Regions from separate parts of the Homo sapiens genome. Here region 1 is linked to region 2. Evidence: fine-mapped expression QTL. A gene starts in region 2. The other region holds a variant in brackets. All regions are shown on one strand. Distances are from middle to middle.

What was found. PIP is the estimated chance that this variant, and not a neighbour inherited with it, causes the effect. A credible set is the group of variants that fine-mapping cannot tell apart.
Region 1: its variant is the best candidate, but not a certain one, in a credible set for the expression of MRAP2 in nucleus accumbens (GTEx, PIP 0.60).

What each region holds. Positions count from the first base shown.
Region 1 is chr6:83,910,036-83,915,416 of GRCh38, forward strand. It overlaps RIPPLY2-CYB5R4 (RIPPLY2-CYB5R4 readthrough), which reads left to right. Exons shown (of 18, transcript NR_174604.1): 7 at 4,381-4,413. It overlaps CYB5R4 (cytochrome b5 reductase 4), which reads left to right. Exons shown (of 16, transcript NM_016230.4): 5 at 4,381-4,413. Among named protein-coding and RNA genes, the nearest start is that of CYB5R4, 53 kb to the left of the region's middle. The variant G/A (reference allele first, on the strand shown) is at 2,862.
Region 2 is chr6:84,030,710-84,036,090 of GRCh38, forward strand. MRAP2 (melanocortin 2 receptor accessory protein 2) reads left to right here and starts at 3,063. Exons shown (of 4, transcript NM_138409.4): 1 at 3,063-3,174.

The sequences.
Region 1 (5,381 bases), 120 kb before region 2:
CATGCATTGGACAGCTCTTTGGTTCATCCTAGGCAAACTCTGGCACCTGTAGAGCTGAGGATGGAGATAGACACCAGGACCTATAGTGGGCTGAGACATTACTTTCAAAGATTTCTTTTACTGTCACAGCACTGTGAGCAAGGACAAGACATCTATTGAATGGGCTGCCTGCCAGTTGGAAGTTCAACTTTTGTAAAGTCAGTCAAAGTTCTTTCTTCTAGAAGCCTCAGTTTCCTCATTGGTAAAATGGAGACAATTTAGGTAGACAAAGCACAAGCTCAGAGACTAACTGATAGGGGAGAAGTAAGACGGTTACTGGTGGAGAGAGGGAGGCTGGGAGTCATTCTGAAGTGGGCTTTACTAGACAGACAAGTTTGCTATCTCAGCCTGGCTGCCTTAATTTGCTCCTTCTGCTATAGGGCCCGTTGTCTGGGTAATTCTTGCCAGAAAGATTTAAGGGAAAGGTAATTAAAAATGGGAGGTAGAAGTAAGAAGTCCCTGGTTAGGGGGCAGATGCAGACCTAAACAGGAAGTGTGTCTTCTGTAGTGGTATGACTGACTGATGTTTTGTTTGTGTTAGCATTTGTTTTGTTTTCATAGAAAGAGGAATTTTGAACATGTGTATATTCATGTACAGGTGATTCCAGATAAGAAAGGAATCGTAATCCCTCTGATGATAGGACAGGAATGGAAAATAACTGACAAATTGCAGAGTTGATTAAAAAAATGACAAGTGAAGCCAACTTGGGGAGAAAATATGAACTTCTAAAAATACAGCATATGCTGTGATTAAATGAATAATGGAGGAAAAACTGATCCTAGGATAAATTAATACTCTGGTATTTTTAAAGCTTTTTAATCCTCGGATTTTTCAGAATATGTGGATTTGAACTATTAAGTCTTCATTTTAATTCTGCTAGTGAACTAGAAGTTTGAGAGATGTATAAAATTGAAAGATGATTCAGAAGATGATTACAAAGATGAATAGAAGAAAGTAAGGTAAAGATAGTTTAAAACTGCAAAAATTAAGTTTTGTAAGATTTGAGAAATAAGTATGACTTTTAAATCAAAAACAAGAATTAGGCCTGGCTAGGTGCGGTGGCTCATGCCTGTAATCTCAGCACTTTGGGAAGCCAAGGCAGGAGGACTGCTTGAGCCCAGGATTTTGAGACTAGCTTGGGCAATATAGTGAAACTCTGTCTCTACAAAAATTAAAAAAAAATTATATTTAATTAAAAAAAAGAATCAGGTCTAAGTTGTGTTATGAAGAGTTCTGTTTAGAGATATGGAGGAATTTCTAGAGGAAAAAATGGTTATTAAACACATTATACAGAACCAAGAAGTCTTCTGGCAAGGCTAAGCAGGTAAGGGAATACAGAATGGTAAATTTAGGACTTTGTGAGTAAGATCCCTGGCAACAAGACTGAGCTCTTATCTGATGGTGACATAATACCAACCTTTTGGAATAAGAAAGGGGAATGAGGAATGTAGCTACAAGATAATTGTAAAACATTCAATTAATGCTCAGCATTTTTTTTTTCCTAGAATGCTTTTCTTCAAGGACTCCTGACAAATGCCTACACATTTTCAAAACTTAGCTAAAATACTACTTCTTCTATAGAGTCCTTTCAAATTTCTTCCAGTAGAAACGTTCTTCTTCTGTGCTTCAATAACACCTCCTGTATACCTCTTTTACAGCCACACGCAATCTTAAAAAGAGCGTATCATCTGGGTACGGTGGCTGACACCTGTAATCCCAGCACTTTGGGATGCCAAGGCAGGTGAATCACTTGAGTTCAGGAGTTCAAGACCAGCCTGGGCTACATAGCGAAACCCTGTCTCTACAAAAAAGAAAAAAAAATTACAAAAATATTAACCAGGCCTAGTGGTGCATGCCTGTGGTCCCAGCTACTCGGAAGGCTGAGGCAAGAGGATTTCTTGAGCCCACCAGGCAGAGGTTGCAGTGAGCCGAGATATCACCACTGCATTCCAGCCTGGGTGACAGAGAGAGGCCTTGTCTCAAAAAAAAAAAAAAAAAAAAAGCCTATTGACTTTATTTTTAATTCCGTTTATGGTATTTTTTGAATAAGTATTGCACTCATGTGATTCAAGAAGAAGCATCCTTATCATAGTTCTGCCTCCCATCTACTGTTTTCCTCTCCCATGCACACACCAAGGACATGTTTCTGTTGATGTTGTTGTTGTTGTGACTCTTTCCAAATTATCTTTATGTATGATAAGCAGACTGAATATATTTTCTTATTTTTCTAACTTTTTATCCAAATGGTATGTCAATGTCCGTATTATGTCAATATCGCTGTTAAGATGATCAATAGATGTTTATTAAAGAATGAGCATATTGGTAAAAGAACTTCCTACTGGATCTTTCTTTATTCCAGGGTATCCTCCTGTGCCTCTGCTCAGCAGAGGTAAACTAGATTTGGGTCATAATTAAAGATCCTTACCAAGGAAGAGCTGAGTGCTGTTAGATCACAGCACCAGCCTTCTAAATGACTCTGACCTCTCCGGAAATAAAGATTCTCATCAGAGTAAAGCAGTTTAACCAGCATTATGAGAAGATACAAATTTGATTGGCCATGGAGCCAACTAAATGATGGAATTAGTTACCAAGAGAAAACATCAGATTTCTTTTCAGAGAAGAAAGTATCTCCTGTGACTAAAATGATTCAGATGTAAATATGCTTGAAAGTGAAAAACAGTCTCCTCCATTTCTGTAACTCAGTTTTTGAAAAGAGTTGTAAAAACAGAGTAGGAGAATTTTTAAAGGTAACCCAGATTCTTTAAGTGGAAGTTCTCTTTCTACTAGTACTTCTTGTATTTAAAAAAGACTTGGTGGTGGG[G/A]GGGAACTACTAATTTTGCAGAATCCAGAAAGTTCTGACAGATTCAAATCTATTCATATCAGGCAAGAAATAATCATAAGAGATAATATTTTCTTCTTAGAAATAAATTACCTGGGACAATTTTTCAAAATCTGTGAACCTCTTAGGTAAAAACTAATTGTTTTACATGATAAATGAGATTTATTAAACTGTTGACCTTATTGTACACTGAAAATAGATACATGTTCTGTGAATTTCTAAGATAAAACAAATAATCACAACTGCAACAGCAAAGACAGATAAAACTGACTGGATGAAAGTACATGGCCAAGCAGGGACATCAGTGATCCTTTGCAAACTGTAATGGCCAGATTTGTATGTGGCAGTTGATAAACAAAGCTCATTTTGAAGTATAGTTTAAATGGTTTTTAGGCCTACTATCCTTTTAGGAAATATTAACTCCTGGATTGCCAAGAAAAATGGGACTGTGTTTCAGGAGAGACAAATCTAATTTTGGCTTTTTTACTGGAGTGGTAGATTTCATTCAAGTCCTTTGACCTCTGATTTTCAGCCTTTTTTAGGAGATCAGGTGATAATTTGCTGTATGTGGTAAATTCCTTTCAGCTGTAAAATTATTTTGGTAAAATGAGGAAAAGGAAAAGGATGGTCATTTGGCTTCCTTAATTATTATTATTTTGGGATGGATGAGTGAAGTGTAATTAATTATGGAATTTCTGGTGAAATATTGGAACACAAAAAATTTGAAAGCTTTGATTTTAAATACGTTAGTTTCTTTTTGTATAAAACAAGGTGATGTCAGCTTAAGAAATGATGTCTTTCCATTTGACTACTTGAATATTTTTTGTTAGCTTATCCCATTTTTTTTTAAATTTTGACAACTTGCTGAGGTGTTTAGTTTGACTATAATGGTATAACACTTGTGGATATTAGAATATAATATAGCTTTGTGAGTTGGCCGCCATCCTGAAAGAAAATACCTGTTAATTTTTTTCCTGGGTTTGTAACACTAATAATTGCATTGGGTATACATGCAAAAATCTGAACATATTTTAAACTTGTAATAACGATCATTTTATGCATTGAACTCAGTAAAAGGGAAAGATAAGGCATCTTTCTTTGAGTTGTTAATGTGTGTGTTTCATTTATGAAGTATAATCTAATAAATTCTGGTTAACTTGGACTAATTTAAAATATGATAACACGGATGAAACTTGACGTTTACATATGCTCATATAGAAATTAACCAAGATATTAGAAAAAAGTGACCAAAGAATTAGAAAAAATCCAAATGAAATGAGAGACAAACATCTGGAGAAATATGGTCTGGCAGTCTTCAGAGATGAAACTTACTTGTTTAAAACAAAGGCCGTTTCTATATTGGCCTGTTTCTCTCCTCAGGCCTTAGAAGAAAGCCCTTCAAAAAAGAAGGGATGTTATCTTGAAATCAGTAATGTGGACTGACATTCTCATTGACATTAAAGTATTCTTATTTGACTTTTTTTTCTAAATCACTATACAGACTATCGTGAGGAGGAAAAGAAAGTCTTAAATGGTAAGTCTATAAATTTATAATAAATGAATCATATTCACATGCTTATGAATAGTATTGATACACAGAATTGTCTGGGGCATTTAAATTTTTTTCTTTTTTTTCTTTTTGAGATGGAGTATTGCTTTGTCACCCAGGCTGGAGTGCAGTGGCACCATCTCAGCTCACTGTAACCTCCACCTCCCGGGTTCAAGCAATTCTCCTGCCTCGGTGTCCTGAGTAGCTGGTATTACAGGTGCACACCACACACCTGGCTAATTTTTGTATTTTTAGTAGAGATGGGGTTTCACCATGTTGGTCAGGCTGGTCTTGAACTCCTGACCTCGTGATCTGCCCACCTCGGCCTCCCAGAGTGCCGGGATTACGGGCGTGAGCCACTGTGCCCGGCCTAGATTTTTTTTTTTTTTTTTTAATATGAAAGATAGCTTTACTGGCCCAAACTTAAGAGTCTTTTGTAGGGTTTTATAGGCTCCTTATTCCAGCCATTACTCTTATCGTCGTGCCTTCTGTGACATCCCTGAATACATGTTATCTTCCCTCAGCTTGAATACTTGTAGCAGTTAGGAGTTTCTTCCTCAGAAACAAGACAAAATAAGTCAGTTTTCTTAGATGTGAGCTCACCTCCATTGTTTGCATACACATGCCAAATAGTTTATTAATCTACAATTTTTTAAGCTGAGTGGTGCATCCAGCCATTCTGGATGACTTGCAAATAATGACTGACACTTCCTCTCCCCCGCAAAAAAGTTTGGCATGGTGGTCACTACTGACATAAAATGCATGGTGCTAACTCTGACTGAACTATATTGATGTACATTTAGAAACATTTTTTTCTTTCATTTGCAAAAGCAAGTTACAGAAATGCAACTAACAAGCTAGATTGCCAGATGAGTTACCTTTTTCTTTGTTAACTGAAATAGTCTATATTGTGGACTAATTTATGCAATTTATAGTACCTGTAGTTGTTCATC
Region 2 (5,381 bases):
TCATTGCTATTTTCCTGGTGTCTAGGACAGAGCTGAGCACAGTCAATGTTTGCAAATATCTGTTGAAAGATCAAATGAATGCATTCCTGAATGAACGACTGAAAGAGAAGTATGAGCTTGTGGTGAGCTCATTTTGGAGCCAAACGGTGCTGGGTTTAAATCCTGGCTCTCTTGAAGACTAGTATTGTGACCTAAGGGAGATTACTCTAAAGCCTCTGTTTTCTAATCTTGAAATAAGGCAAATGGAATTTACCTCAAGACAAACCATTGTCAACTTATATTGATGAACAACAGCTATAGCTACATATAACTTAGTCCTGTCACTAAATTTCTGTGAGTTATCTTGGAATGAAAAGACAAAATTAAAAGACAATGAAGCTGTATTCTTGCAGATTAATTTATTAAGAACAACAGTAAAAATATACTCATTGAATGTCTACTGGGTAGAAGACATTATGCTAGGACCTGTGGAGAAATTAAATATAAATTAATATTTGGCCTATGGAGGAGTTAAGGTATACAGTATAGGCTAAATTTTAAAATAAAGTAGGAAATGTCAGGTGCCATAAGAGAGGTATCAGATTTTAGATTAAGAGTTCGTTTGTAGCTGAGACAATGAGGAAGGCTTTTTGGGACAAGTGGTGTTTGAAAAGACCTTTCCTACAAAGGAAAGGTCAAAAGATTTTTGCTGACAGTGGAGGAAGGAAGACAGGAATGAATGCAACCATGAGGAGGTGGAGATATCTAGGAGAGAAATGTGGGCTTGGCCATCCTATTGATGTCATTGTTTCACCAGATGCTGCAGTTTCAGCTTCTGAAACCAAGGGTTAGTGACCTGCCTTTTTCACAAAGTACAATGTGCCCTGGTTTTCTGTCTGGAGCCATTGATGCTCTGCCCAGAACAAGGCCACCTGATGCCGACAGCTAAGGCAGAAATTGGCCTGTTCACACCGTAGCCCCTCAGAAGCAGCAGTTTTGTCACTCTTTTTCACAATGCCCTGAAGACACTTGGCAGAGGCTCTACTGCAGGGGTGAGGAATCACATCCCTGTGAATAGGAATGAGCAACTGGAACTGGTGTGGACACTTGGGGAATGATTAATAAATCTTATCACAGATTGTCAAATTATGTTATTTAGAATCAAACTGCTTGTGGATGAGGCAGAAGATACATACACACACTATAAAGATGGTTTTCTCTAATGACCAGTGATGATGAGCTTTTTTCCATATGTTTGTTGGCTGCATAAATGTCTTCTTTTGAGAAGTATCTGTTCATATCCTTTGCCCACTTTTTGATGGGGTTGTTTTCTTCTTGTAAATTTGTTTAAGTTGCTTGTACATTCTGGATATTAGACCTTTGTCAGATGGATAGATTGCAAAAATTTTCTCCCATTCTGTAGGTTGCCTGTTCACTCCAAATGCCCATCAATGATAGAATGGATAAAGAAAATGTGGCACACATACACCATAGAATACTATGCAGCCATAAAAAAGGATGAGTTTGTGTCCTTTGCAGGGACATGGATGAAGCTGGAAACCACCATTCTCAGCAAACTAACACAGGAACAGAAAACCAAATGAGCATGTTCTCACTCATAAGTGGGAGTTGAACAGTGAGAACACATGGACACAGGGAGGGGAACATCATACACCGGGGCCTGTCGGGGGTGGGCGGCAAGGAGAGGAAGAGCATTAGGACAAATACCTAATGCAAGCGGGGCTTAAAACCTAGATGACAAGTTGATAAATGCAGCAAACCACGCTGGCACATGTATACCTATGTAACAAATCTGTACATTCTGCACATGTATCCCAGAACTTAAAATTAAAAAAAAGAAGAAGAAGAAAAATGGTGTTCAAAATATTTCATTTTACAAGTGGTAATGAAACTGAGCTTTTAAAAAAAAATCAGTGATGAGATGTCATTTCCAGGAATCCTCTTTTGGCACCACCAGCTTGAGTTCATCACACTGCCACCAGCCTGCATGGGTGCTGCATTTCCCCTGCTGCTGTATAATGGTGGTTAAACTATGGTTCTGGGGCACCAGGCTTCCTGACCTTGAAGGCAAGCTCCTCTATTGACTAGCATATGACCTTGGGCAGTTCCTTTAACCTTCCTAAGTTACAGTTTCTCATCAGTAAAATGGAAATGGTGGCAATACCTGTCTAATATGGCATATGGAGAGTAGTAAAAGAAATGACTAGTGCAGTAAAGAACATCTCAGTGCCTGCCACACAGCAAGTGCTTTCTCTCCAGATACCAGCGTGACTTCTTTCTGTCTCATCTCCTTTAGATCTTTACTCCACTGTGAAGCCATCTTTGACCATCCCATTTAAAAATGCACCCCCTACCTCCAAACATTATCCCATTTCCTCCCTTCTTTTTTGTCCACCGCACTTCATCACTATCTCACATACTATGTATTTTAGTTATTTGTTATGTTTATGCCTGTCTCTTTAGTAGAATGCAAGCACCAAGCACCTGTATTCCCAGATCAATGCCTGGCATGCAATAAGGACTCAAGGGAGGAAGAGATGAGCCAGCCCTGCTATGCTGAAACTACTCCCGGCCCAGTGCTAGCCCTTTGGGACCCCGTTTGAACGTCTGACTGCCCTTTGACACCTGGACCAGTGGGCAGGAAGAGAAACTAAAATCGAGGTAGTAATTTAAGCAGCACATTATGGGGGGGCTCTGGCCTTACTGAACTTGAACTCAATGCTGCCGATTTTTCATAAGCCTTGATTCATGATACCCCACTCCCTCTTGCTCAGCTAATGAGCTCCTCCTGTTACCCAAAGTTGACCCGAGGGACCCACTGCAGAGCCCGGGATGGCAAAGAATTCTCTGACTCAGGCTCTGACCCGGACTCGGAGGGGCAAAGTGAGCAGGAAAGGGATCTGCAAAGCTCACCTCCTCTTGGCCAAGGCGGCCTCGCGCTGGGGAGGCGGCTCTCGCGCTGGGGAGGCGGCTCCCGCGCTGCAGCCCTGCTCCGGCGCCCCGCGCCGCCTCCGCTGCGGGTCGGGAGCGCGCGTCTCCGCCGCACCTCGGATCTAGGAGCTACTCGCCCGGCCCTGGGCGGTGGGAGGCGGCGGCGGCGGCGGCGCTCGCGCACCTCGGAGGAGCCAGGAGCCGGAACCAGGGCCGAGCCCGCGGGCCGGGGCTAGCCAGCCGGTAACCACGGGCGGGACAGGGCGCCCAGGGCGGAGCAAAGCCCGGGCGCTGGGTGCGGGGCGCGTGCAGCTTTGGTCAAGGCAGGGCTTGCTTGGGTTTGGGGGCAGTCTTTAGTTTAGAGGGGCTAGAGAATGGGGTGGGAGGAGGAGAATTGGGGTGTGAGGACGCCCACGGGAAGAGTGTGGACCCCGTGGAGAGCACCAAGTTTAAAACCTTCCCGGCAGCCCGCTGATGTGCGTGTGGACGCCGCTGGGCGTCCGAAAAGCCTGGAAGCGGCGGCGCTCGGGGCTTGGGTGGGCTTCCTCCCCTCCGCTGGGCCCCAGCGGCCGAGGCACACCCTTTCCCGCTGGTGAGAAAACTTTCCTTGCTGCGGCCCTCCTGCCGCCTTGGTGCCCTGCAACTGAGAGAGCCCCCCTGGGCTGGGGAAATGTGCTGGCTCCTGGCCCCGGGCGCGCCTCCATGCACTGGGCAGGGTTCTCAGATGATGCCTGGCTTGACAGTTGCTCATTCATTTTGTTTGGACTGGGGAGCCTGCTCGCAGGTCGTGTTACTGATTAGAGGGAAATAGGGGTTTTACACTTTCCCCGCCGCCCCACCCCGCAACCCGCCCCCGCTCCCCCCGCCCGCCCCGCGCCCCGTGCCCCGTGCCTTTCCCATCCTTTCTGTGTAATTAATTGAGGAAGGCAAAGAGTAGTCTCTGCAGAAACCTGTTTGGAGGCGTTGTGGTTTCCACAGCATGTTAGATGGCACAGAATCTCAGCCACTACTCTGCATTTAGTTTGACAACAGTGAAACACTCTGGTGTTTTGAAGGCAAAGGAAGCTTGAGGGAATGTGTCCAGGGAGACGAGAGAAGGGAACTCTTATGCATAAATTAATTCTTACGAAAACCCCAAAAGTAAACAGTAGTATTTTCAGTTTGCAGGTAGAGAAAATTAGATTGCGATATTAAATACGTTTTCCAAGGTGACTGCCCCAGTTAAGTAATAGTGGGGAGTAGGGGTCTGGAAGCTAGGACTGTGAGTCTAGTTTCCTTTAGGTACATTGCATGGGGTACACAGACAAGAACAGGTGCAGGAGAGTGACGAGGGCCTGCAAGGATAAGGTCAGGAAAGCCAGAGGCCACTGTGAGCTGGGGTACCCACAAGGAGTTTCGTTCTTATGAGGAAGATCATCCAGTGTTTATGGAAGAATAGATAATATTAACAGGTGATAGGAAAAGGAAGAGTTGCTTCCAGTCTGTATCTTTCTTTTCAAAGTGAGGCCAGCCTAAACCCTTTAAAGAGGGTCTCGAAGCCCGAAACTGGACTGGATTGTTCAAAACCCAAATGGCAGACGTCCTAGAGTAGTGAAAGCGGTTACAGTCATCTTTGTGCAGGTATGAGAGATGAGAATGGACCCAGGAGACTTTTTAAAAGAGGGAAACATTGAATCCTGGCAACATTCTAGAACAAATTCTTTAAGATAGCTCAAAACTACCTAGGGAAGCATTTACAAATACTTACGCCAAACCAACTCCCTTCCCTTTTCTAGCAATCTACTGGGATATAGATCAGGGTATGCTGTATCCATTGTCTTCAAATGTGGGCTGTGACTCATTAGGCTAATGATCAGTTTAGTGAGTTGCAAATAGCAGTTTTTAAAACATGAAAGCCAAGAGAAAGAAAGATAAGATATCAGAGTGCATTGCAGGAGCAAGGGAAAGTACTGTTTTGTGAAGCGCGCGCTGGTGATGCATGTGTCCTGTTCTGTGTTGCTGATCCTGCTGCCTCTGCGTGAGTGTTCATACCCATCGCTAGCTGCCCCCTTTCAGCCTTCTGAGCTAGCCCCATTCTGGTCACAGTGGGGGTCATCTTCTTTTACCTTGCAGATTATGTCATCAACATATTCTGGAAAGCTGTTCGCTTCCTCCTCCCCATTTCTGTTGGCCCCCAGATGCTGAGGTATTTTGCCAATCAGAATTCATCTCTGAATTATTTATCTGTGACCTTTTTTGATAGTCACAGTTCATAGATAACTTTTATCAAACATATTAAATTAGTTCAAATTGTATAAAGAGAATATCACATCTGTCCTTTTTAGCTTTCAAGGGAAATGTTTTCATTACTTGGAGTACAAAAAATATTGGAAGAACAATATTCTTATGATGTTTGTGTAATATATTTAAGGAACTATTATTATACCAAGCTATGATATTTGGAAGATTAC